Linked DNA regions of Homo sapiens: all the other regions are reported to be linked to region 3. Evidence: microRNA targets listed by miRTarBase, many of them from high-throughput screens and not tested one by one. Region 3 holds a microRNA gene; each other region holds the end of a gene's coding sequence.

The links. Region 3 holds the annotated microRNA hsa-miR-653-5p (GUGUUGAAACAAUCUCUACUG, at 5,070-5,090, opposite strand). A microRNA usually pairs through its seed, bases 2 to 8, with sites in the 3' UTR of a target mRNA and lowers its output. Matches are read on the target gene's strand: a 7mer-m8 pairs with bases 2 to 8, a 7mer-A1 pairs with bases 2 to 7 and ends in A, and an 8mer does both.
Region 1: the mRNA of PAPOLG is a reported target of hsa-miR-653-5p. Seed matches in the 3' UTR shown: 7mer-A1 at 1,869-1,875, 7mer-m8 at 3,187-3,193, 8mer at 4,900-4,907 and 7mer-m8 at 5,475-5,481.
Region 2: the mRNA of SMAD9 is a reported target of hsa-miR-653-5p. Seed matches in the 3' UTR shown: 7mer-m8 at 2,980-2,986 and 8mer at 4,463-4,470.
Region 4: the mRNA of SH3BP4 is a reported target of hsa-miR-653-5p. Seed matches in the 3' UTR shown: 7mer-m8 at 880-886.

Annotation. Positions count from the first base shown.
Region 1 is chr2:60,796,159-60,803,285 of GRCh38, forward strand. It overlaps PAPOLG (poly(A) polymerase gamma), which reads left to right. Exons shown (of 22, transcript NM_022894.4): 22 at 904-5,928. The coding sequence ends at 1,002. Among named protein-coding and RNA genes, the nearest start is that of PAPOLG, 43 kb to the left of the region's middle.
Region 2 is chr13:36,842,430-36,849,556 of GRCh38, reverse strand. It overlaps SMAD9 (SMAD family member 9), which reads left to right. Exons shown (of 7, transcript NM_001127217.3): 7 at 738-4,726. The coding sequence ends at 881. Among named protein-coding and RNA genes, the nearest start is that of RFXAP, 27 kb to the right of the region's middle.
Region 3 is chr7:93,477,754-93,484,880 of GRCh38, forward strand. It overlaps MIR653 (microRNA 653), which reads right to left and starts at 5,102; the gene lies at 5,007-5,102. It overlaps CALCR (calcitonin receptor), which reads right to left. Exons shown (of 14, transcript NM_001742.4): 4 at 1,601-1,754. MIR489 (microRNA 489) reads right to left here and starts at 6,266; the gene lies at 6,183-6,266.
Region 4 is chr2:235,053,391-235,060,517 of GRCh38, forward strand. SH3BP4 (SH3 domain binding protein 4) reads left to right here. Exons shown (of 6, transcript NM_014521.3): 6 at 202-2,324. The coding sequence ends at 426. Among named protein-coding and RNA genes, the nearest start is that of SH3BP4, 100 kb to the left of the region's middle. RefSeq lists a silencer at 2,475-2,769.

The DNA.
Region 1 (7,127 bases), not on the chromosome of region 3:
TCTCTTGACAAGAAACTATCCCCATTACAGAAGTCTAGATTTTGCCTTCCTTTTTTTTTTTTTTTTTTTTTTTTTTGGACATGGAGGCTCGCTCTGTAGCCCAGGTTGGAGTGCAATGGCGCGATCTTTTTGTATTTGTAGTGGCTAATTTTTGTATTTGTAGTGGAAAAGGGTTTCACCATATTGGCCAGGCTGCTCTTGAACTCCTGACCTCAAGTGATTCGCCCGCCTTGGCCTCCCAAAGTTCTGGGATTACAGGCGTGAACCACCATGCCCGGCCCTAGATTTTGCCTTCTTTATGTAATAATCTTTAATGCCCTCAGAATCCCTCAAACCGATGTCCCTGAATTTCATAACCATCAAAGTTATCTAGCCTAAGTACAAAGTTCAGTTTTCCTGAGAACTTAAGTATCTCACAGATTGAGTCAGTGGTCTTCTTCATGAATGTATTACAGAAACAAATTGAGGGACATAACTCTCAGATATTAAATTTTTCTCTACTGCACACACTCATTTTTCACTTCACACCCCAAGAGCTTCCTGTTTAGTCACCATGAACTTCCTTTTTTTTTTCTTTGCTTGACCTTAAGGACTGTGTTCTTTATGCATTTCTTGATCCAGGCATGGCAGTTCCTCTTTTCCTGTACATATTCACACTCCTGCCACTTCTACCCTTTCTCTTATCCCTCTGCTTTTCACCTCTGACTGTAAAAAGAAGTAGCAGTTCCGAAAGCAAGAGTTCCCTATGAACACGGAAGGAAATATTCATTGCATACTTGAGTGTTTAGGAGCTAGAGGGTTTGGGAGAAAAACTCCCCAAGTTTTGTGACTGACTTTCTAGCTGGGCCTTTATAATATATATGATGTGCTTTTCCTTTTTTGTTTCCTCTTTCTTTCTAATAGAGACTACCCAGTAAAGAACTACCAGATTCATCATCTCCAGTTCCAGCAAACAACATCCGTGTCATCAAAAATTCCATTCGACTGACCCTTAATCGGTAAAAGCAGTGCCTCCTCACTTAAGTGAACAAGCAATCATTTAGTGGCATAGATGCAGCCACTTGTTTTTTAAATAGAAGTGGCTGTCATACGTGAAATAAGGTGAAAGTGACAGCCTTCAGTCTAATAACCTTGAAGTGGTTTTTGAACTGTCAAACTTTGACCTGTAGATGCTGTAGCATTCTCTCACTGATTGCTACATACACTTCTCTGAGGATCACCTGCTGTCAAATTGCCATCTACAGTATTACAGCTTTGCATTTGGGGGTTTTACTGCCTTAACTTTCAATGCTTGTTATGGGAACCAGTTCTTAGCCACTTGGACACTGATAACAAGTCCTGAACTCCTTTTTTGTTTTGTTTTTTGTGTTTTTCTTTTTTTGTCTTATGTTGTAATCATTGTATAGAGCTAAAAAAATTGAAAACAAACAAAAAAATTGTCTTGTATTTTCCAAATGTTAATACATTTACTTTAGCATTGAAGCCACTTTGAAACCTGAGATAAATGAATGTGAGGTATCTTTTCTGCTTTCCTCATTTGTGTAGATGTACTGTCTGTTCTGTTGATTTAAATTATTTTTTTCCAGATTGGCACATGAAATATTTAAACTTTTTTGTGTGCCTTTCTGTCCAAATGTTGCATAGTTACCAGGGAAGATTAGTCCAGTGATTACATAAGAGTTGGGCACCATAAATTCTCTATATTTTGCCTCCCATGGAGGCCTTTGAAATGCATCTTTATTAAAAATCAAAATATAACCAGGATACTGAAAGTCAGTATATGAATGGTAAAATTGTTACATATCCTATTTCATGCCATTCTTGTTAGTTGACTGGTATTTTTTACTGAGGAGCAACTCATTCCAGCATCAACAATAAGATAACCTTTAAGTATGGCACACTTGTATTTTTGAGGTGTAAAATTAACTTGGCATGATAATTCCTGATCATTATTTACCCCACAACTTCAAATAGTTTCTTCACGGACTAGGCATGCAGAAATAAGCAGTGGATTTTATTGAAACCTAAAGGCATTTTGAATGACATTGTTACCAACCATTAATTGGCTCAGGACCTTTGTAATTTTTATTTAACTATATGAGTTGTCTTTTTTTACGCTGCTTTTTTCAATGCATTTCTTAATATTTTTTAAGTTTCATGAATGCATGCTCAGTTTATTAAAATCCATAACCATGTAATTCTTGTAATATGTTGATTCAGTGTTTTGTAAATGAAGTCGTATGTATTTTCAGAGTATTTTTGTATGTACTGTAAGATACCATCTTTTCAAAGAGAAACGTTTAAAACCTTTATTGTCTCTCCTTAGTCTAATTTTTTAAATATGGATTATGCTTGAATTACTATATTTAAAATGAAAATGTATAGATTACACAGCCAGGAATGCTAGTATCTACCACCTTCTTTAGATTTCACTCAGCATTTAGTAGGTCCAGTAGGAAAAACCCAAAATGGTACATTGAGTAGTGTGGGGAAGACACCTCGTGTATTATAGGACTCACGGGATGCCATCTAGCAAGTGGAGAAATAGCAGTCCATTTTCTCTTGCAAGCCCTTTACCATTGAGTTGAAATTCTTGAATTGCCAGAGAGCCGTATCCTCCAGGTCCCACTCCTGTTCATTGCCCCTTAGGTCTCCAAAATGTAAATTCTAATGTTTACCTTGTACCATGGAAAACATGAAAAGAGTCTTAGAAGTAAAGAACAACAAGGAAAAAAATGTTTGTTCTATTATTCCCTTTTTATATAGCAGCAAAAGATAAGAATAAAATCACATAACCAAGTTGAAGCTTCCTTGGCAAAGCTGTTGTCTTAGCTGACTCTTTCCCTTTATTCAGATGTTTTGGGATTGTTCTACAAATAGTCTATTTGAGCAAAAATGAATGATTATGAAAGAACCGAAGAATTATCACCTGACTTCAACTTTTGAAAGCTTTAGTAAGGAATTTGATTAAATTTTATATACTGGATGTGTATGCATTTCTGCATTTCATATCTTTTGCTTTTAAATCAGCCTTCAAAGTATCTTTAGGAATTCCTTCTGTATCCATGTTTACCCCATTATGTAAATAGATCTTTGGAGTGACTAGTGGAGTTTTTCTTTAATAAGGAAGCAACAAGTCTAACCTTGTACTATAGGATAGGCATTTATTTTAGATTAAGGAGCCCATTCAACATGTCAATGAGTCAACATTAGAGTCCTCAAAGATAGCATTCTTCAACCTGTTTGGTAACTGAGGAGTTGATAAAATACTTTTGAGATGGTGGGGTTTGTCAGAAATAAAATATTTTCTATCCTGACCAGTAGGTAGAACTTTGAGTACATTTCGTTAACTTGGTGGGAAGCTTCCATTGTACTAGTTCCAAGTAAAAAAGGAGAAAGTATGATCTGGGATTTTGTGTTATGATGAGAGGCACTAAGTACATGTGTTTGTTTTGTTTTGTTTTGTTTTGTTTTGTTTTGTTTGAGACAGAGTTTTGCTCTTGTTGCCCAGGCTGGAGTGCAGTAGCCCAATCTCGGCTCACTGCAACCTTCACCTCCCGAGTTCAAGCTATTCTCTTGCCTCAGCCTCCCAAGTAGCTGGGATTACAGGCACCCACCACCTCGCCCAGCTAATTTTTGTATTTTTAGTACAGACAGCGTTTCACCATGTTGGCCAGGCTGGTCTCGAACTTGTGACCTCAGGTGATCCACCTGCCTCGGCGTCCCAAAGTGCTGGGATTACAGGCGTGAACCACCGCACCCGGCCGTGTTTGTTTTCAAGTGTGAAAAAATACCTAGAAGTATATTTTATGAAGTCAAATAATCTGTTCTTCAGTATATAGACACATGTTCATTTTCACAAGGGCATTACATTTTAATTTGCTCATTTTTCAGTAGCTCTGGAGAATATGTATGAAAGGAAAACAATTACCTGCTAGCTTAAACCTTAGGGACTTAACCAATTCAAGATAGAGGTACATGGCTTAAAACTTTGTAAAACTGGGACAGGAGAATTATTATTTTTTTATTTTTTATTTTTTTATGAAGACAAGAGTTTCACTCTGTCACCCAGTCTGGAGCACAGTGGCATGATCTCACCTCACTGCAACCTCTGCCTCCCGGGTTCAAGTGATTCTCTTGCCTCAGCCTCCCAAGTAGCTGGAATTACAGGCCTGTGCCATGCCCAGCTAATTTTCGTATTTTCAGTAGAAATGGGATTTCACCATGTTGGCCAGGGTGGTCTTGAACTCCTCACCTCAAGTGATCTGGCTGCTTCGGCCACCCTAAGTGCTGGGATTACAGGCATAAGCTACTGTGCCCAGCCAGGAGAATGAATTTTAAAAATCTATGTTAGTGTTTAAAATGAGTGCTTTGTTTTAAAGCAGCAATTTAGTAGCATTATTAAAATGCTTACTTCACTATAGTAGCAATTAGGTAAAGATGGGCAATATCAAAATGGGCTAAACTTATTTTCCACTATGTTCCACACCTTTGAAATAGGAATTCCTAACTTGAGAATCATGAACCCTTAGGGAATCCTTTATAATTGTGTATAAGAAGTTCTAGTTTACATGCATTTTTCTTGGGGAAAGTGCATAGTTTAGATCAGCTTCTCGAAGTGGCAAAAGTATGGGAGTTAGGGTTAGGAACCACCAGGATTGAATAATCCTGGAATATTATATAATTTTCTACTTTTGATTTTGCTGTGGTATATTTCTGAAAATGTGCTGTGGCTCCTAACTAGTAAAATGGGCTGGTGAGGGACTCTGGAATTCTGAATTTCTAAGTTTATAACCTAAAATGAAACTGTAAAGTCCTCGGTATTTAGAAAAATGCTTAATCTCAGATTTACAGATGGCCTCATGATAACTTAGATTCGTTAACAGGGTCAAACTTTAGTTCAACAAATTTCAACCCAATATTATCACAGTACAATAGCTTAGAATGATCATTAGAAATGGTAGAAAATAGAATAAATCATTAAAGATCCCAAAATGTTGAGTTCTGTAGCATGAAAACTCTCTTGCTCCTCCATGTTTGTAGTTCAGGCCAGAACAAACTAAACAGACCAATAAATATAAAAGTGATAGTTTAGGGAAAAAAAAAAACTTTGTATAAATAAAATTGTATGTGTGTTCAAATAACTACCTATTAAATCATCCAAAGCTTAGAATTTAAATTGGTCATAGTAGCAAATAGTGCAGATGATGGAAGAAAACCAGTCTCAATAATGGTTTTTTTTTTCCAATTGCATAAGGTCACGTCATCCCCCAAATTGTCTATTTTTTCTTTTCTTTTTTTTTAAGATGGAGTCTCGCTCCGTCACCCAGGCTGGAATGCAGTGGCGCAATCTTGGCTCATTGCAACCTCCACCTCCCAGGTGCAAGCGATTCTCCTACCTCAGCCTCCCAAGTAGCTGGGACTACAGGCGCCCGCCACCATGTGGGCCTGGCTAATTTTTGTAGAGATGGGGTTTCAACATGTTGGCCAGGCTGGTCTCAAACTCCTGACCTCCAGTGATGCACCCGCCTCGGCCTCCCAAAGTTCTGGGATTACAGGCGTGAGCCACCGTGCCCAGCCCCTATTTTTTCTGAAATAATTTTTCGGATATACTTTTATATTTGAAATTAGTTGAACATAAGATGATCATCAAGCTTGCTATAAGTTTTAAGCTATTGCTACATTTGAACAAAGACCCACGTACTTATCTTAGAAAGTACTTAGGATATCTTTGAGATTAATGGTGCTACATCACTCTACAGTACTATGTAAAATGAATGGAGCTGCTGTTCCTTTCTAGCTAGCTGTTTGTGTAGTTCATATTAATTTACCCTGCCTTTTATTTGGATTGTCTGATTTCTTAGTTGTACACATGAACCTCATTATTTGCCTGGAATAAGTAATCAAATAAAATTGCTTTGATAAATAGGTGATGATTGAGTGATGTTATTTGGGACTAACTCAAAAGTACCAGAAGTCTTAACTTTTCAGTGACAACCAATTTTGTCATTTACCACTCAGACTCTTTTTGGTAGATAATGGTATCTACTACCCACTTAGTATGAATGCAAAGCTCAGACCTAATGTGCATCACACAGAATCATTTATTAAACGTTTATCAGCAAGCGGTGGCACAACAGTTTATACAGTCTGCTCTATAACCTTAATGGAGTGTCCCAGCTTTCTGTCCCTTTTGGTGGTCTGACCACCCTTTCATGAAAAGGCCACTTGAGGTGTCTATGTCAAGCACTAGGGGCAAAATTCTGTCACCCTTCTGATCAGGATCAGGCAATCAGTCCTCCGTACTAATAATGGCTGGACACAGGATCAAGCTGTGGGTACTATGCATACAAGTACAGGTTACAGGGCTCGTTACATTCTTAAACCTCTTGTAAGAATGGACAGTGACTGGTTTTTAGCCAATCCATGTGCTAGTGCTGAATTCACAAATAAGAGCTTGTGTCTGCGTCGTTAGTATTACTAGCAAGCTGTTCATGTCACCAATGGAAACACATTTGACATTTATTAAGCTAATTGGCAAAGTCTGCATTGATTGAGCTATGGATAACAAGGGCTTCTAGTAGTCACTTTTGAAGTGTGGGCTTCTCGATTGGATTGCTAGGTGGCCATCTCTGGAGTGTAAATTTCTGGTTGGGGCAACTCACTGCTCCTAGGACATAACATACTAACACAATTACCATGCTGTGATAAAATGTTTTCTAAAGTCAATTAACATCATAACAGGTTCTTCGTGGATCCAAATGTGTTACAGTACTAAGGACAAAAATAAAACGTATTGGGGTCGGGTGCAGTGGCTCACACCTGTAATCCTAGCACGCTGGGAGGCTGAGGCAGGTGGATCATTTGAGGTCAGGAGTTCAAGACCAGCCTGGCCAAGATGGTGAAGTCCCGTCTCTACTAAAAATACAAAAATTAGCCAGGTGGTAGTGGCATGCACCTGTAATCCCAGCTACTCAGGAGGCTGAGGCAGAATTGCTTGAGCCTGTGAGGCAGAGTTGCTGTGAGCCGAGATCATGCCACTGCACTCCCGCCTGGGCAACAGAGTGAGATCCTGTCTCAAAAAATAAAGAAAAATATATTGGGCCAGGCATGGTGGCTCACTCCTG
Region 2 (7,127 bases), not on the chromosome of region 3:
CAGGTCCACTTGAGGTTCTCAGTCATGAAAGTAAAATGTGATCAGGCAGCATGGTTGTGTTGAAATCCAAGTTTTAAAAAACTCTACAGAGAATCACTGCTCCCAGTCACAGAACTGATTTACTTGGCTGTGATCTCCCTTCATTTTTAAATATCCTTTCATTGATATATAACATATAGAGAAAAATATGCAAATTAAAAAAAAAAATTTTAACTGTCTCTCCTTTGAATGGTGATAAAAGGGAAATTGCCAGTTGAACTAGAGAGAGAGAGAGAGAGAGAATAAGCAAGCTTTGATAATGAGCCCTGAAAAACCAAGAGCGCCTTCCAGTTCTGTCTTTACCACTTTCAGGTCCAGTCACTGGTCTGCAGTAACCATTTTGTGCAAGACACTGTCCTGGGCATGAAGGGGTGAACAAAAGGTCAAGTTTCTTCCTTTGTGGAAGGGAAAATGATTTTTCAGTGCTTCCCGTGTGACTGGAGTGCCAGAACCTCTCTAGATCCGAGTATTCAGTTGTGAACCCTGAGGGAATGCACTGATTTGGATTCATCTGAAGGCATCTGGTTGGTGTGAGAGTTGACCTGTGTTTACAGGAAGGTAGAGGCCATGTTCTCTCCCTCTCAGGTCTCAGGAGCTACGCTGGGGTGTGGGCTCTGTGCCCCGCTGAGCTCTGCCTGGGGCTCTGGAGGCTGAGTGTAAGTGTGGCACCATCACTCAGCTCCTTTCTTGTTTTTCAGGGTTGGGGTGCTGAGTATCATCGCCAGGATGTCACCAGCACCCCCTGCTGGATTGAGATTCATCTTCATGGGCCACTGCAGTGGCTGGACAAAGTTCTGACTCAGATGGGCTCTCCACATAACCCCATTTCTTCAGTGTCTTAACAGTCATGTCTTAAGCTGCATTTCCATAGGATAGAGGCTATTGCAGGGAGTGGCTTGTATCATTTCAGATTTGCAACTGAAGTTTCTAAAAACATGTGTAAATACATAGAATGTATACTGTTCTTATTTTTTTTAATCACCGTTTGTTTTGTGCTTTCTAGTTAACCTGATGCCAGTACAGTGCAATTGGAAAAGCAGGACTTTGGTGCCTGTGCTATAAGCAGCAGATTTTGTGGGAGGAAACACTTGAGAGGCGATATTGTCAACAGTATTTGAAGGGTGTTAGCAGAATAAAAGACAGCTTTAGTCAGCCGTGTCATTATAAAGCATGTTGTGTGGCCTCACAGAAACATTGAAACTGTTTATACAGCAAAAGTCAGGTATTAGCAGCACTAAAGCAAATATCACTCAGATGAAACAAAGCAGTGAAACCCCTACAGTTTAAATGATGTCACTTTTAGTGCTGTTGGCAAGAAAAAAAAAACAACAAACTTGTACAATGAATTAATGAGATAGGCCATAGAAACTTTATTTCTAAGGTTGACATACCTATAGCTGGGCTCCTGTGCTCATATTCAGTGGTACATTTTAAACAAACTGTGATCGGAAAAGAAAAAAAACTGTGAAGCCAAAAGTCATGTTCCCTCAGTCTACCACTGTAAAAACAGAGTCTAATATGGGAAAATAAATATGAAAATAGCATGAAATGCTGTTTCCCAGATTGCAAGATAAGACCAGAACTTGGTCCAAGAGCCAGCCACCCAGGGAGACTCCTGCTTTCCACAGAGGAGACCAGGTTCCTGTCGTGCTGGTTGTTCGTGTCAGGCAGTCCTGCAAACTTTGAGTCTGCGCAGCGTGCCAGAATAGCTTGTGTTTCAGTCCTGTGTCAAGAAGCAGGTGAAACCAAAGGTTGGAGAAAAGCATCACACGTCGACTTACACTTTCTCATTTCCCACGTTCCAGTCTCCTGGGAAGGGCACTCTTTCGCCACGTTTTCCTGCCTCTTGGCAAATATTAACTCTTTGCAGATCACTAAAGCAACAGTAAAGACTTTGAGAAAATCTAGACACATTATTGGATCAATGAGTTATTTAACCTAGTGTCTAGTGATTATCTAACCTGGAAATAAATTCCCAAGGAAAGTGATAATAATTTCATAATCATCTGCAATTTCTGGGGAACAGTGGTACTGAATAATAAGACATCTTTTAAAAATATACACAATATTAAAAACCTGTTCTTATTTTACTTTAGATGAGGGAGGAAAATCCCCCAAATTTCTAGGTACTTTCATATATATACTTGCCATGCACTAAACACTGCATTGCTTGGAAAAATATTTCACACCCTCTTTAAAAATGTACAATTTAAGATGGCAGTTATGCTTGTAACAGACAGCACTTCAGTAATCCAAGAAGTTTCTTCATTTATACATTTTATCTCAACTCTTTCTAGCATTAGTGCACATGGTAGTTTTTCTAATTAAATTGTATTCAAGGTAGAAATGATCATGTGAGAAAGATATATGATTGAGCTACTACTGTCACCTCTTACAGTTACTAGTGTTAGCTAATAGAAACTTTCATATATACACATAGAAAAGAATTATTACATTTTACATTGAAAAATGTAATATATGGCCCATGTAGTGTATAGAAAAATCTGTAGTTTATTGGTTCATCAACTATGTATTGTGCACCTACCTATGGGTGTCAGGTACAATGTTAGGTACTGTAGAATCAAATGTAAATAAGAGACAGTCCCAGCCCTCAGGGAGCCGAGAACCTAATAGTGAATCTGTTTGTACAGACATCTTCATGTTTCAGAACTTTTAAAACAAAACAAAATAATGTAATCTATCATCTTTTGCTTGAAAGAATGTGATTGATTTCTTATCTCTGTTTTGAAATTATTTCCTTACTCTTCTGCAAAGTCAGGTAATGGATTCCTTGTATAAATGCTACTTTTCTTCCATGTCTCAAAGTTGTTTTTTTTCCTCCCCTTTCTTCCCTGTTTTCCAATAATTCTCCATGTCCCCTTTTCTTAGAAAAGGCATTAATATGGTGAATCTTGTATGGGAACCATTCCATGGGAGAACTTCAACACAGTTTTTGCTCCAGAGATCAAACATAGCTTTCGTGATCTCTCTACCAGCTATCTAACTTATCCTCTGGTAATCTTTTTTTTTTTTTTTTTTTTTTTGAGATGGAGTCTCGCTGTGTCACCAGGCCAGAGTGCAGTGGCGTGATCTTGGCTCACTGCAACCTCTGCCTCCCGGGTTCGAGTGATTCTCCTGCCTCAGCCTCCCAAGTAGTTGGGACTACAGGCTACCACGCCCAGCTAATTTTTATATTTTTAGTAGAGACGGGGTTTCACCATGGTAGCCAGAATGGTCTCTATCTCTTGACCTTGTGATCCGCCCGCCTCAGCCTCCCAAAGTGCTGGGATTACAGGCGTGAGCCACTGCGCCCGGCTTCCTCTGGTAATCTTACACCTTTACAGAATTAATCTAAACTGGTGGCTCATAAATGACATTAAAAACAAAAAAAAAATCTGGATGCAGTGGCTCATTCCTATAGTCCCAGCACTTTGGGAGGCCAAGGCGGGAGGATCATCTGAGCCCAGGAGTTTGGGGCTGTAGTGAACTATGATCATACAACTTCATTCTAGCCTGGGTGACAAAGTGACACCCTGTCTCTAAACAAAAATCAAGAAACAAAAAACTTGTATTTCCCTGCAGCTTTGGGAAGCCAGAACACAATATTGCAGTGAATCTGAATTTTCTGTGACAAATAAATTATTAAATTGGCACATATGATCATCACCAGTCATGTCTCATCAAAAGCCTTTATTATGATGCTTGTACATTTTGAAGAATTTAGAATTAATGAGAAGTTAACCCTTTAGTCATTGTAACACAATCATATTTTAATCAGCTTTTTCTTTTGCTACCAAGAGTTTCAAAAAATAAATGCAGTATTTGATTTCAGGCTGCTAAATGGGCTCATTTAGCATTCATTCCTTGATGTAGACATTAAAAAAAAAACTGAATAGCATTCTTTCCAGGATAACTAATAAAGCAGACATGCTAAGCCTATAAATACATCAGCACTGCAGCACACGTTTAAGGTTGCCACGGACAAGGATCACACAATAGAGAACACTGTAGTAACATTTCGGTCTGCTCACAAGACCCAGAACATTGATCAGTTTTTGTTGTTGGTTTATTATTTTTCTGTTAAAAAATTGTGAAAAGTTTGTTTTAGCTAGATGATATTTTAATAGCTGCGAGTGCTTTGGAACTATAAAGATGTCACTACTTAACACATATACCTTATGTTTTGTTTTGTTTTGTTTTACACTCAGTATAAATCAGGAGAAGTTAGCCAACCATCTAGCATTTAGAATCCTCTTTTTTATTGTCTTCTAAGGATATGGATGTTCCCATAACAGCAACAAAACAGCAACAAAAACATTTCATAAATATCACTTGATAGACTGTAAGCACCTGCTTAACTTTGTGTCCCAAATATTTAGTGTGTATATATATATATATATATACACACACACACACATATATATTCAACAAATAAAGCAAAATATAACATGCATTTCACATTTTGTCTTTCCCTGTTACGATTTTAATAGCAGAACTGTATGACAAGTTTAGGTGATCCTAGCATATGTTAAATTCAAATTAATGTAAAACAGATTAACAACAACAAAGAAACTGTCTATTTGAGTGAAGTCATGCTTTCTATTATAATAACTTGGCTTCGGTTATCCATCAAATGCACACTTATACTGTTATCTGATTGTTTATAATAAAGAATACTGTACTTATATGTCTTTTGGCTCATTTTTCCTGTAAACCTCATAGAAGATTCACTGTATGTGGGTCTGCAGCTCCTTAAGTCAATTAATTTTAAACCATTCTATTTTGAAAATGGGATGTTAAATTCCACATGCTATAGAGAAATTAGGTAGTGGTTTTGAATTAAACACCTTAGAATAACCGTCATGAAGTATAGTTCTTGAAGATACTTCACAGTAACTTTAGAAAGGATATATGTAGAACCTTTTTCTGGATAGTAGCAAATACGTGATATTGCAGTATATAGGAAAGAATGAGCACTTTCATTATTGTAAACATCTGTACATTGCTACAGATTGCCTATTAGAAAGGTGCTAAAAGGCAACTGGTGAGGGAAAACTAAGATGAAATCCAAAGAAATATGAACACATCATCTAAAAATGTAAATTCTCAATTCCTTTCATCTAAATTTCCTTCTAATCTTAAAAAGGAAGGGGAAACTCTATTACCTATAAGCAGCTTTCTTATTTACTTGATCAGAGTTGTCAATTTTTTTAACGAAATGGAGCTCTGTATTCAAAAAAAGTGTTTTGTGGAACTCCAAAATAAAAACACATGAAAGATATGCCTGTTTAGATCCTGGTGGGGACCGTGAAGCCTCCAGTTTACACTGTAAGTTTCTGGAGAGCAGTGATTGTGTCTTGTTTGTCTCCCATGGTTCCCGACCCTGTGCTTGCATCTAATATTTGGTATTGGCATTTCAAACACGAATACACATTCTTTAAACATATCATGGTACAGACATAAAATACTGTCTTTAAACATCAGCCCGTCTTAGAGAAGAAGTATTTTCATCATCCTAGACTCCTTATATTTACTTGTCAGATAGTTCTTATGCATCAGCAGGCACTGTAGATACAATGACAAAGTTTCTACTTTTAAGGAGCTTACCATTTTGTGGAGAAAGGTGAACAAGTAAACCAATAATAAGCAGTGTGCTGTCAGCTGTGACAAGCTGCTGGGACCACCGAGTGACATCTACATCAGGCCCTGGGTGAGTACCAGGGAAGGCTTCTGGGCCGATCCAAGTTGCCATCCTTCACGGCAGTTCTCTTAGTAAATCATCCCAGGCATTCCTAAAGCAGGTTAGTGCCTGCTGTCTGTGTTCCCATAATACTTTGTGCCCATCAATGGTCAGTATCAGTTCCTGCACCCCACTGTTGTTTACTTATCCATCTTTCTGCCAGGCTGGGATGTCTTTAAGGACAGGGATTCCATTTATTCATTTTCAGCATTTTCCAGCTACTGTTTGTTTAGAAAGGCTTTTGGGGATCACATTGTAAAGGCAGAAATGGTAGTTATTTTTAGCTCTTTCTTTAAAAATATCCGAAAGTATTTAGCTTCTCCTTTCAAAATAAAAAGCATTGCCAGTCCGCAGTCCGGCCTGGGCGACAGAGCGAGACTCCGTCTCAAAAAAAAAAAAAAAAAAAAAAAAGCATTGCAGGCCTCCAACTGCATATCACGTAACCATGCACAGCAGATAGGGATCAGAAAAGCGTGCTTGTGATTTATTTTGGAAATAGTTATCCAGCTGCATAGCAGTAGCAAGGAAAAGTAGTTTTAGCAATTAAACAGTTAAAATTGCTTTTATTCTAAGTATTTATTTTCACAATGTGAATTTGAGTATGAGAAGCATAAAGAATTTTGATGTTATAACACCAAGTTAACAGACACTAATTCTGAAAGTTTACCTCCGCATGATCACTGATGGTTCCATTATTTGCATACATCTAATAAAAATGTTAGGCAAGGCCTCAGAATGACTCTTAATCTAAATGCCAATGTTAAATGGAGTAAATATAAGGAAAATTATATTCAGTTTGGTTTTTAAGCCAAAGAGAATTCACACCTGCAACGTGTTCTTTGAAGAGAACGCTTGCAAGTGGCAGGCTAACTTCTCTCTAGTCTCATCATTTAGGAAGGAAAAATTATCAAAACAGGCCAGGAGCGGTGGTGGCTCACGCCTGTAATCCCAGCACTTTGGGAGGCTGAGGCGGGTGGATCACCTGAGGTCAGGAGTTCGAGACCAGCCTGGCCAACATGGTGAAACCCCGTCTCTACTAAAAATACAAAAATTAGCTGGGCGTAGTGGAAGGTGCCTGTAATCCCAGCTACTCAGGAGGCTGAGGCAGGAGAATCGTTTGAACCCAGGAGGCGGAGGTTGTGGTGAGCCGAGACCGTGCCATTGCACTCCAGCCTGGGCGACAGAGCGAGACTCTGTCTCAAAAAAATAAAAAATTAAAAATAAATAAAAATCATCAAAATAATCCATTGATATTTAAGCATAATTTCAAATATTCTGAACATCATGCTGTAAAAGTGTTTTGTCTTTTTTGATGCCATAACAGCATATACTTTCTTATACATTCGGT
Region 3 (7,127 bases):
CTGAGCTCACTACACCAGTCATAACCAACCACATTTCAAACAAGCCAAGTCATTTATTTTGGAAATAAAGTTTCAAATAGGCTTAGCATATCTGTGACCAAATTATCTCATTGGATGACAAGCAGGGTTCTATTTCTACTTTGTAAAAGGTTCCAAAGTTGAGTGCATCAAAAAAGCAAATGCCCCAAAGACTGCAAGACCCTCTCTCAAAAAAAAAAAAAAAAAAAAAAAAAAAAAAAAAATTCTACCTAAAACCATGAAGATTTACTTCTATAAAGGTATGTATTCAAAAGAATCAGATCCAGGCTTTCAAGAAAGCTCTCAAAAATTATTTAAAAAATGAAAAGAGCTCTCAGAAAACCCCAAAAATATCAGTTCTGTGTTTTTATTGTCTCACTGGCTTCAACGAAATTGTTTCTCCTTTGGTCAGAGTTATGTCTAATGCCTGTTCAGTTCTTGATAAACACTGAAATTACTGCAGACAGAAGAATAATATGTATCTGCCTTTCAGTTGACTTGATGTTTTTGTTTAAAGGAAAATGGTAAAAATAAGAACTACAAACTAAAACTTGAACTATTTGAAAGCAAAGAATGTGCAGTAACAGAGTATATTTTACCATTTTTTTCCCTACCAAGTTGGGTTGTCTTAAAATGTACATGGTAGTAGGCCAGATGCAGTGTCTCACGCCTGTAATCCTAGCACTTTGGGAACCTCTCCTGAGCCCAGGAGTTGGAGACCAGCATGGACAACATGGCAAAACCCCATCTCTACAAAAAAATACAAAAATTTGCTGGGCATGGTGGCATGCACCTGTAGTCCCAACTGCTCAGGAGGCTAAAGTGGGAGGATCGTCCTGGGCGAGAGAGTGAGACCCTGTCTTAAATATATATATATATATATATATATAGTAAAAGATCTTATTGAATCTTTTCAAATGCCTCAGGGGACAAGTAGGAGAATTTAAAGGGATGTTGCAATGAGCTTGCCCATCACATCTCCCCTTTTGTTTTTCTATGGGTCCTCTACAGCTAATAGAATATGTTTAGACCTGAAAATATCTGGGCAGTCACATACAGCCATTCTAGAGAAGCTGGTAGATAAACAATGTCTGGCTAGGAGGTACCTTTTTGTAATTCTCCTGGAAAGTGGGGCCAGAAAGTGTGGAAGAATAGTATGGGTTGCCAACCAATTGACAGTTAAAGGGAAGATACTACCTAATTAATCCAAGCAAGATAGGGTTTGATAGGGTCCACCTCAGGCAAATTCTCTGCCCTCTATTTTCCAATTCCCTTTCCTGTCATTTTGTACATCCCCTCCCTCACTCGGTCCTTTACTGTTCCGGCTCACCAGGTGTGAATACTGAATTATTGCGGTAATTTTATCATGAGGGCAGATGTTAGCCAAATTGCAGTCAGATGAACTTGGGCAAAGAAATTAGGCATATGCACTGCATGAAATACACAAACATACCATAGTGTGAAAACTGCTGTGAAAACTGCTGGCATATTAAATTAAAATTATTCAACACATATTTAACCACAAAAGAAAATGTCTGTAATGGTGTTTCAAACATATGTTCATATATATCCTTCTCTTTACCTTCTCCTTGGTATGCGGGTAACTGCTGCATTCGGTCATAGCATTTGTACTGTGCATCCATCATCTTCTTTCGTCCTACGACGTAAAGAAATGGCTTGGGCTCTATTGTTGGATAGGTTTGATTTGAAAAGGCAGGAAGAATTGGGGTTGGGTGCTGTATTAAAAAGAAAAATCAGTTACTTATAGACAGGAGGAATGGGTGAGCACAAATAAATGAGACAATGAAAAAGTTTGAAAACATTTATTTTTGCTCTCTAAGCAATACTTATTCATGGTCTCTATGTACAGTTTTTTTCATATATATTACAAAAAATGTTTTCACATTTCATCTACAAATTCTACTGGCACATTTTACATTTGCATTAGTTTCCATTTACTATTGAAAATGGATAACACCTACACACTCATATACCTCTTTATCAGCTAGGATTGTTTTAACTGTATTATGATTCTAAAGTTTAGAAGTAAACAAAACAAATAATCTAATTTCCAAAAAATACAAATATGAAATCAACTTTGCCTTACTCTTAAGAATCATGAATCATGTTATTAAAAAATAGACATAGTTCAATAAATATGCTTTTTTATTTGATTCTTTCAGCTAAATTTTATTGGTGCTGTGTACACTGCCAGAAATTTATCCCATCTATTCCATGGAACAAACAAAATATGTTTTCTGCTCCTCATAATTGACCATAATCTCCTTAAATTGGTTTCAACAGCAGATGACCTGTACAGGGCAATTCATGTTCACTAATGAAAAATCAATGTATTTCTTAGATATTTATCTCAGCACATTTGCATTTTGGTACAGATTGACAATAGTTTTTTTCAGTTTCAGTTAATCATCACCATCACAAGCCTCTCTTTTTCAAAGGTAATGTGGGTGTTTGAAAAGATCACTCTGTCACACTGTTCTTCCTAACTTGTGTTTATAAAGATTTCAATTTCTTTTGTGGCTATGACCAATGTTTTTAGTGGTGTTGGAATCTGCGAATTTTTAATATCCATGTTCTGCATAGAGATTTTTTTTTCTTTTTTTGAGGAGACCTAAAAACATCAGCCTGCACTGACTTTCCTTTTTCTAAATTTAGGAATGCTGCTTAATTTCTATCATACCCGTTGAAATTTCAATTCTAAGATTGAAGTTTCTCCAATTGTATTGATGGCAGAAGTGGTGTTATGTACTCTTCTATATGTGCTAGTTTCTAAACAAAACTCATCCCTATTAAGTTGACATGTATATTCCTGGCTCTTCATGGTGAATCCTCACTGTTTTCCATGTGTGTCATTGTATATGTCCTACACGACAGCACATCACTAACTGCTAAGCTGTCCAGCACAGAATCCAATCAAAATTCAGAGTTTGGAGAGAGTAGGGAGCAAAAATATTCAGGATGGCTACAGATACAAGGTAGAATTTGAATTGTATCTTGAGTGTGGGAAGTTTCTGCATAGGCACAAGGGGGGGTCGAGAAGCCTTTTGGGATGGAGGGACCTTTCCCACAAAAGTCTGGAGGTTGGAAATGACATGCATGAGCCACTGTGAGAAAACCATCTTGCCTGAAGGGGAGCATATTTGAGGGTAAGAAGGTCAGGACTTTGCTTTCAAGACTGCATTATCTGAATCTTCAGATAACAAAAAAAGAGTTAAAACTTGTTTTGTCACTTTGAGCAGGTTAGCAACCTCTCACTAGATCTGTTTCCTCAACCTAGGAAACGTAAAATAAGAAGAGCGGTAAGAATAATATTTATCATCTGTCATGTTGTGAGGATGAACAAGACAATAAACACCAAGTGTCAGGGACATGAAAGGTTCAAAACATTTTAGCTAATATTGTTAAAACATGGTATATAACATAATATATATGATAAAGATGTTTTGTAGATTTTTGATCAGTGAAGGTTGTGAAAGGAGAATTTTTAGTAAAATTCATGCAGCAGGCATCAGATGTCCACAGGTTAAAGTTGCGGGGTGGGGTGGGGGCAGCCAGGAAGTTGAAGGCCTGGCTGGACTAGATCAGTCCATGTTGGAACAAGAAAGTACCACTCTTAGCACCTTCTCAATAATAAAAACATGAAGGCATATTTGAATACAAGGAATGGGAAACAGTAATAGTCAAATAGCCCAGATAATTAGCCTAGATATTTGGGGAAAAAAATAGTTCCCAAGAAAGGGAAGATGCTGGGAAAGGAAAACCTTATTAGGGGGAACTTCTCCCCCTTGGTAAGTAAGTCCTATTTTGGGTTAGATTTGGAGATGGTAGCAAGCCATCCTAGTGGAAATATCTTGCAAAGAGAAGAGGGTGAATACTTATCATTATTATAACATTACTGTGATAACTTCAAATGGACACCAATTGTGAATAAGGTTGACACTACTCTTTAAACATTTTGTTGATTTCTAATTTTAATGTCTCTTGAATTTATGTCAGAAGAGAAAGTAATGAACCCATAAAAATGATTATAACTGTGCAAATCCTTTACCAGTGTAGCTGAACACAATTCTTTTGATATATGACACTTTCCCCACTGGTCTTCAGATCAGTCAGCAAATATTGATCAAACTTGATGAGCCCAACATTGTGCCAGATGCTGAGGATACAGTGCTGAATAAAATAAGTGTAGACTGTGCTCTCATAGAGCTTACAGTCTGGCAAGATGGACCAACACTATAAAATATATTTCTGATACTTGAAATTATGAACAATAAAGAATCATCAGTCATAAAATTCTTAGATATTCCTAATGGAATTGGAACACGATTTGCAAAATTTTTAAAAAAGAGTAATTTGAAGGGATTCCATGTTGAGGTTTCTTTTTTTAGTTTATTACTCAACTTTTGTATGAATATGTGTGTTTTAAAAATTCAATTACATATTAGGCAACCATCAAAACAAGAATGGATCATGATGCCTTCACAATAGAGATATTAATTATTGGTTCAACTTATACATTTATTTTAGATTCTTCTTTTGTGGCTCTAAAATCTTCAGTTAATATGAGAATGATCATTTGATGTATTATTAATTTCTGGACCATTTTCTCACCATCTTCAAATCGAATTAGAAGATGGAACATGATGTCATATATAAATCTTATCTGTCACTTGTATTAGATATGCTAAACACTGGGAAGTATTTTGTTTAAATCTGGCTTTCTTCCCAAAAGTAACATTCTGAATTCTCTTTTTATATGGCTGACAACCAACCAAGAGATTTTCTTGCTCTAGTTGGAAATTCATGGAAACCATAGGCAAATAGTATGTCCGAGGATAACAAGTAGAAAACCCTATGCTTGTATTTTCAATTATATTTTTATTTGCTTTAATGCAGTTTTAACATCAGTAACAGTGGAAATACGACAATCTGTATACGAGTAGTTATAATTCATGCTGATGAAAGTAGCTTCCATCTTATCATTCTTGCAATATTGAAACAAACTCCAGTGAACTTGTTTGAAGCTGGTTCAGTAGAGATTGTTTCAACACTGAAGGAATGAAAAATTAGAACCTCTGTTGTCAGATGAGCAGTAATAATCTGCATCAGTTCCTGGTCTGGTTCATATTTGAGCACTGAAGATGGAATTTTCCCAACAGTAGATGAATGTCTCAGTGGCCTTCTTCCTAAAATAACATACCCATTGGGGCATTACGTTTATACATACAGTCATCCCTTGGTATACTCAGGGGATTGGTTGCAGGACCTCCTGTGGATACCAAAATCTGAGGATGCTTAGGTACTTCATATAAAATGGTGTAGTATTTGCATATGTGGATACCAAAATCTGAGGATGCTTAGGTCCTTCATATAAAATGGTGTAGTATTTGCATATAACCTATGTACATCCTCCTGTATTATTTAAATCATCCCCAGATTATTTATACCTAGTACAATGTAAATATGATGTAAATAGTTGTTATACTGTATTATTTAGGAAATAATAAAAAGAAAAATAGTCTGTATGTTTACAATACAATTTTTTCCTGAATATTTTCTATCCAAGATTGGTTCAATCTATGGATGTACAACCCATGGATACAGAGGGCTGACTGTATAGATAGATAGATAGATAGATAGATAGATAGATAGATAGATAGATAGACAGACAGATAGATAGATATAAACATATAAATATATGTATATGTATGATTTTATGTATATTATATATATATAATTACAATCATGGAATTACTACTGCTTAAAAATAACACATATACAAATTTCATAAAGTTTATTAAATGTTAAACTTTTGCTGATAATTTTATACAAATAAGAATTGCTGGGAAGGTGGTATCATTTTCAGCAATACAGAGACAAAATAAAACCAGTAGTGATTGGATGAAACTACCAAACAATGTAAGAGACTTCAAATATCCTACTTATTATAAGTGTTATGTCTATACTACTTATTTCAGGGGGTTAAATAAAAATATGATTATATGTTCACATTCAGATAGAAATGAGATATTAAGGGCATATTGTTTTTCTGAATAAACATCAGTTTTCAAAGCTTTGCATATAAACCATCTTACATGATTTTTCAACATACAAACAAACAAAACTCTTAATTGTTGTCCCATGTAGCAGTTTAGCTGCCGTATATGTGATGTCACTCCTAAAGGTTCAAGTAAATGGCGTCACACATACGACCACCAAGCTGCCACCAACAGCAGTAGTCAGCAGCCCAAACATCATCAGTTTTTTTCAGTCGACAAATACTTTGAGTGCCTCTCACATGTCAGGCACTCTTCTAGGTTCTGGAAATTCAGCAGTGAACCAAACTGGCAAGCCACCTGCTCTCATAGAGCTTACATTCTTGATTTTATCCACACTAATCATGGAATCCACAGGAAAGGAATCTGATTTGAAATGGTCATATGCTTATGCAATTCCTACTGTGATGTAGGACAGTCAGTTTGCTTTTGGGTTACAGGCAGTTTCTAGAAGTACAGAGACAGTTACAGAGCTGTTCTTCATGGAACTTTGAGAAATGGTCCATCTCTGCAATAGTTCAAGCCCACTGAGTGTATGGACCCAAGCTGCTGTGCTGAAGGGAGAGCTTCCTATTGATTGCCACATGCAAAACTACTCTAAAAAGTATGTAAACCTAGAATCCACAAACTGATGCAACCAATGAGATTTTCATGTCACCATCCTTAATGTTGATAATGTATATAATTATTTTTGCTTTTCAGTTACTTACACATTTCAAAATAAGAAAGGACAAAGCACACTGTTGTAAAAAGTGTTAGCCCTGGTTTTCCCAGGTAAGATCAGATGCCTGGCTGGTGTACTGTGTAATTCTACTTACATTATATAAACAACGAAACTGCATATATCATAAATTCAAAGCAAATAGGTGAACATAGATAAGTAAACAAGTAACAATAACACCTGCTCTGAAGAACCTAATTTTTATGTCTTTGTTATTACCATTGGCTTTGTTGTCATCAGCATCGTCACTGGCATCTTTTTCTGAGAGCTCACTGTATACCAACTGCTGCTCTAAGCTTACTGTATACCTC
Region 4 (7,127 bases), not on the chromosome of region 3:
CCCTGCTTTTCCCTCTGGAATGTGCTGACCCTGGCCCCGAGATGGTTCCACTGTTTCTTCTGTGGGCTTGTCTCACTCGTGAAAGAGTGTCCCAAATAGTGACTACTGAAGCTGCACCAAGTAATAGGAACAAATCTCGTTCTGTCTCCTAATCTTTCTTCCTCTCTCCCTCCTTTTGTTTTTTACAACTCCACCTCCCAGGCCATGTGGAAGCCTGCGTATGACTTCTTACTCACCTGGAGCCATCAGATCGGGGACAGCTACCGGGATGTCATCCAGGAGCTGCACCTGGGCCTGGACAAGATGAAAAACCCCATCACCAAGCGCTGGAAGCACCTCACTGGGACTCTGATCTTGGTGAACTCCCTGGACGTTCTGAGAGCAGCCGCCTTCAGCCCTGCGGACCAGGACGACTTCGTGATTTGAATGGGTCCCCTCCCCTCCTGCTGCTCTGGAGTGCAAGCCCTCTTCTGCCCTGCGTGCCCTGCTGTCACCGCGGAGCTGAAGAGGGAGGAAGGGGCGGCTGCTCAGACAGATTTAGGGCCCGCCAGCTAGGCTACACCCATCATGCGCCGCCCTCCTCCATCGAGGGAGAGGCCTGAAGGGACTGCCTACTGCAGCTCGTTGCCAATCACATAGCTTTCTATTTGTTAAGTATAAATTTAAATTTAAAATCACTTTTTTAACGAATGGGGGGAAGGGATCTATGAGAAAGGTGGTATCTAATTTTTTTATGGACCATAAAGGTTTAAAAGAAAATAGGGGCACAGGCTGTTGAGGTTTTTATGTTGTTATAGACCTTTTTAAATTATGTTAGAGATGTATATAGGTATTTAAAGGTCACTGGGAGCGTTTCTGATTCCCGGCCACACTTTGCATTTCAACACTCAGCCCGGAAAGATGCTCGTTCGGTTGTTGGACCTCTTTCACTCCCTGCGTGTAAGAAGGTGAATCACGTGGGAAAAAGTGGCTTTTCAGTAAACGGGTACAGCTCATTCTTTCTGAGAAGGCCCCAGGTCCTGCTCCCTCCTCGGATTTGATTGTCTTCCGTGCTTTGCCTCACTCGTAGTAAATGACCATCCATAGAATATGTGAATCTTTGGTGAGCTTCAGTGGGCAGAGTGAAGTCCCGCATTAGCATTTAGGTGCCCTGAGCTGTTTCTGCCAATAGATTAGAAAGCAGCCATGAGTTGACAGTCTTTAGGGCCCCTGCCAGTGTGCAATTAGTCATTGACAAGAACAATGCCATTTGAGAGTGAGGTGGTCCCTGCTGCTACGAGGCCATTGTACTGTTTTTTCCTTGAGGTCAAAGCAGTGCTTCCCATAGAGTTTGCTGCCTCTTCTGTGGACAGGAAGAAAACTTCATGACCGAATCAGAGCCTTGGTGGCCACTGACTCTCGTGCTTATTGCAGATGCTGTGGTTGGCCTCACAAGCAACGCCTTATGCTGATGTGCAGAGGTGCCAGCTGCCATTTGCCAAACTCTGCATTTCATTTCATCTAAGGCTTAACCCCTCTTCCTTCCTGGTGTACCTGTGTCTCCTCGGAAGGAAGTCATAGTTTAGATGAAACCATTTTTTGTACAATGTAAAGATCATCTGAGCAAGATGAGCATTTTGTAAAAATGAAAATGTGACTCACATAAAATCAGGAACTTGACACAGTGTTGCATTAATAACTTTAGGGTGCAGACATGCTGTGTGAATCTCACAATGCGTCGTAGATGTCGCGTGTTGGAAGGGAGCAGGAGGAAGGACTGATACTGGCAAATCAGTAGAGTGAGGTGATCCTTAGCAACGTGCCAGGACACTTCCTGTGTGCCTGCAGTTGTCAGGGACCATTTGGGATCCCGAATCTCATTCTCTAAAACTGCTTTCTTGAAACATGTTACTTCCTTAGTATAATCAATGTATACTCCCTTACTGGCCTGAAACGTTGTATAGCTACTTATTCAGATACTGAAGACCAACGGACTGAAAAAAAGAACAAACATTAGCTATTTTATGCTGCAAGAACCAGGACACACAATTCGCCAATCATCCCACCATATAACCTTCGATTGTGCTTCTCAACTCCACCCCATAATTTCTCCCAGAGACCATCTATCACCTTTTCCCCAAAGAAGAAACAAAACCAGTTGCACCTTAAACCATGGATATTTTTTCCTCAGGGGCTTTAAATAGTTTCCTATGCAACGTGTCTTGTAGCACAAATAAAATTCTACAAAAGTTGCAGTAAATTTTATTTGGATATTTTAACCTGTTAAGTGTGTGTGTGTTTTCTGTACCCAACCAGACTTTAAATAAAACAAACATGAAACCTAATGTACGTATTTATACATACACCAATGGCTGCCTCCCCAAAATAGTCACCCCTAGATGACAGTAGGACAGCTGGTGTGGCAGGTGTCTATTTTCTTGCTATTCATTTAATTTGCTCTTGAAACACGAGTCACTCAGTCACCACTAACCAAATGGGAATTGGTGTTATACCAGGCACCCAAAGGAAAGCACATCGATGACTTGCTGTTTTCTGGGTCCCATGAATTGGCAACCCCAGTCCCGAAATAGAAAGTTTAGGATGGAGTCATTTCTGTGTGTCAGGTGTCAGCCTTGAAGTGCTGATTGTGGCAAACAAGGGCAGACCGTGCTTTAGGAAGACCGTGTTGTGGGGGAGAAAGGAGTGAAGGACTCCTAATGGAGACCAGCTCCACCTGGAGGTAGGGGGAGGAATGGGGCTAATGGAAATCTTTCTTGGGAACATGACTTTGATGAAAGGCTTGAAGGCTGAGTGGGAGCCAGCTAGACCACCAACAGACCAGCCCTGGGGACCAGTGTGTCGGCAGCATCGACGACACGGTACGTGGGGCAAGGAGAGGCTAAACCCTCCACGTGGCTGGGACTTGTGGAGTGAGCACAAGCCCTCTGTTACCTGGATGCTTTCCACCGCTTGTACCTGTGTTAATTCCACCATGCATCACCTACCAGCTGGGTCCTCATACCCATTTTGCAGTTAAGGACAGGGCTCAATGTGGTCCCATAATTTACACAGCCAATAAGAGAGGCAGGGACCTTAACTCAGGACTGCCGTAACAAAGTGCCCTGCATGGCTAAGGACAACAGAAATGTGTGCTGTCACCGTTTTTGAGGCCAGATGTCTGAAATCAAGGTATCACATGGTCGCTTGTTCTCCATGTCTGTGACTAAATCTCTCTCTAAGGACACCAGTCATAGGATTTAGAGCCCACCCTAATCCATCAAGACCTCATCTTAACTTGATCACACCTATGATGACCCTGTTTCTAAGTAGGGTCACATTCACAGCGGGGTTTAGGACTTGGACACGTCTTTTTGAGAGGCACAATTCACTCACCACCCTGCTCCATGCCTGGCCCTTTGGGCGTAGCCTGCTTGGGAAGAACAGTGCACGAATCAGGTTTAATCTATCTTGGTGCCCTCCGCCCAACACAAAGCAAAGCCAGGGTGGAGGAAGGCAATTCTTAAAAGGAGAAAGCTCTTCTGATGGACTGCCATGTTCCCCCAAGACCCATCCTCTTCCTGAGCCAGCGACTGGGCTGTCTTTCCCCATCTCCCTTGCAGTCAGGTGCGGTCCAGCTAGGAGATGGGAACCAGAATGCTATGGGCCGCCTGCTGTTGAGTCTGGCTCACAGGAACCTTCCAGAAATCCTCCCTTCTTCCAACTGATCAGGAGGAACTCCAAGTCCCTAAAGGTGAGGCAGGGGCAGATAGAAGGACCCCAGATCCCTTAGGGACCCCCAGTAAGCTCTGTTCAGCAAAGTGTCTGTCACACGGTATCTAGAGAGATAAAACTATGATTGGCCACCGAGAAGGTGAGTTAGCTGTTACAGTGGCTGGTGTTGCTTTTAGACCCAGATGATCACTGTAATCCACAAGCTGGCGGGGAATGCAGCTTGTTCTTAACTGGGAAACATCCCTACCACAGCTGGATTATTATTTTTTTAAAATATTATTATTAATTTTATTATTATTCCTATTTTCAGAGAAGGAAACTGAAGCTTAGAACCGTGTTATTCATTGTCGATGGTGCAACCAAGTTAAAGATGCTGTCTTGTTTTTTTTTTTGTTTTTGTTTTTATACTTTAAGTTCTAGGGTACATGTGCACAACGTGCAGGTTTGTTACATATGTATACATGTGCCATGTTGGTGTGCTGCACCCATTAACTTGTCATTTACATTAGGTATATCTCCTAATGCTATCCCTCCCCCCTCCCCCCACTCCACAACAGGCCCCAGTGTGTGATGTTCCCCTTCCTGTGTCCATGTGTTCTCATTGTTCAATTCCCACCTATGAGTGAGAACATGCGATGTTTGGTTTTTTGTCCTTGCAACAGTTTGCTGAGAATGATAGTTTCCAGCTTCATCCATGTCCCTACAAAGGACATGAACTCATCATTTTTTACGGCTGCATAGTATTCCATGGTGTATATGTGCCACATTTTCTTAATCCAGTCTATCATTGTTGGACATTTGGGTTGGTTCCAAGTCTTTGCTATTGTGAATAGTGCTGCAATAAACATACGTGTTCATGTGTCTTTATAGCAGCATGATTTATAATCCTTTGGGTATATACCCAGTAATGGGATGGCTGGGTCAAATGGTATTTCTAGTTCTAGATCCCTGAGGAATCGCCACACTGTCTTCCACAATGCTTGAACTAGTTTACAGTTCCACCAACGGTGTAAAAGTGTTCCTATTTCTCCACATCCTCTCCAGCACCTGTTGTTTCCTGACTTTTTAATGATCACCATTCTAACTGGTGTGAGATGGTCACAGCCAGATTATTTCCAGCAACAAGAACACCCCTTCCACACTATTTTTTCTTGGCCTAAATGTGTTCACAATTGGTCAGTACCAGTCTGAATATAAATGGCTTTTCTCCCTAATACTCCGAGGCCAGGCCAAGCAGTTCAGTTAAACCTCCAGTTTTTCATTGATACTGATTTTGACATTGATGTTGTTGAGAATGATAATTAACATAACATTATGGTATTTGTAGATGTTCTTTAGGACCTCATTCAGGAGAAAAGATTTAGTTAGAAAAGAGTTAGGCTCTGACTTCTCGACGAAAGGAAAATTTTGTCCCTGATTAATTCTTGCCTTGATCTGCACCTGGCCATCTTTCTGTCAAGTCACTTGGGGCATGTGTCAAGTCAGTTATTTTGTAATCCTCCAGCCCCCAGCCCCTCTGAGTATCCATCACCCCACAGTAGTGCCCAAGCTCAGACTCGGTCCTGGGACCTTTCCCCATCAGTGGTCCAGATTCCAGCAACTCATAGGTTTCACAACCATTCCTACTGCCATGACCAGAATTAAGACTTTTTTTTCCTGGATGCTCATCCTCTTTCTTTTTGACCAAGCTACTCCAACACCCTCCCCCTGGTCCTCCCTCCAATTCTGTCCTCCCCTATCCATAGGACAAAGGACTCCTTTCACAGGAGCCCTTCCTGCATCCTTCTGTGTGGTCAACTCTGGGCTCACCCCCTTTGCTATGTCCTCGCACACACGGACTTCCTCCAGCACTCCCTTGACCATCTTTTTGTAAACCTCCCTGTGTTGGTCTAAGCTGTGTCCAGGCTGTGGCACCTTTCCTTCCCCACCTGGCAGAGTCACACACTGAGCTCCTTGAGGACAGTGACCTTGTCTTGGCTCATCTCTGAATCCCAAGAGCCTAGCACAGTCAATACTGGTTTCTTGAAGGAATTGTTCCTATCTCTGCAATAGAAATGCATCTCCAAATAAGATGGCTTTGGCTATTGGACTGAATAGAATGGGCTTCATGCTATGTTTACAACCAATGTAAGAGATGTGCGAAAAGTTGTCCACCAATGAATGCATCAAAACCAGCTTGGATTTTAAGAGGTCAAAGAGGAAGCTTGCAGGGATGGAGCTCAATGAAGTGTATACCAAGAACCATTATATTCCTTAATGAATCATTTTCTGGCATGAGGGAAACATTGTCAGTTTGGTCCATGATTTATGCTGCAATAAAATTTGGCTTTATGTAAAATAGATTGAAATGAGCAACTTAGCTCTTTCTGTGCCATAGGTCAACACCTCTGGCAGTTTGAGAAAGGCTATAAACTCCTCAGTATTATGGAAATACACATAAAAACCCTGAGATCACAGATGAAAGCAATTATGTTTACATACAATTACCAACAATTTTTAGAAATTGTGGTGTAATATATATACTTCTTTATGCATTAAATAACACAATCTAGTAGTTAATCTTACATCCCCCGGAAACTCAAAATAGTGATGAGCATTTAGATACCTGCAAAAGCATTGATGGAAATAAAAATATCAGAGATTTCTATGTTTGGCACATTACGGGAACTCCTAATATTAGAGAGGTTCCTTGCCTAGGTGCATTCTTGAAGGAAGCGCCAATGTTCAGGTTAATGAAAATAAAGATGTAATGTTTTCCCTTTATTAAAGAAAAAAGAGCTTGTCCTAAGGAAACTGAAGTCACCCAGATTTGCTGTACACATTTTTTAAGTGCTTGTATTAGTATTTTCTGCTCCAGGCTAGCAAGAATTGTATTTTTAAAGCTTTGCTTCTCTGATAGAGTTTTCTGCTTCATGAGGGAGAAGGAAAATGTGAAGAAATTAATGGGCTGTGCTTGTGACTTTTTAAGTATCTAGAGTCATCTTTCTTAATTTTCCATTTCAATTGGCTTTTTAAAAAATCTGTGTGCTTATATCATATATATATATATATATATATATTACAACTTTCGATGTAATTTTCATTTTGGGAGGGTGCAGCATACATATTAGTGAGCTACGGGCAGCTTGATGGAGGGTCGACTCACTGCTCGTCAGAGACAGGTCGGCCCATGTCAGTCCTGGGCACACAGAGGGTCCAAGGAACAGCAAGGGAGAAAGAGATGGTTCCTGGGCCTCCAGGAGTTTGTATCCAATGAGGAAGATCAACACACACAAGCAGGCCAGGAGCACTGGGTTCATGCCTGTAATCCCAGCACTTTGGGAGGCAGAGGCAGGCAGACCACTTGAGGTCAGGAGTTCGAGACCAGCCTAGCCAACATGGTGAAACCCCGTCTCTACTAAATACACAAAAACTAG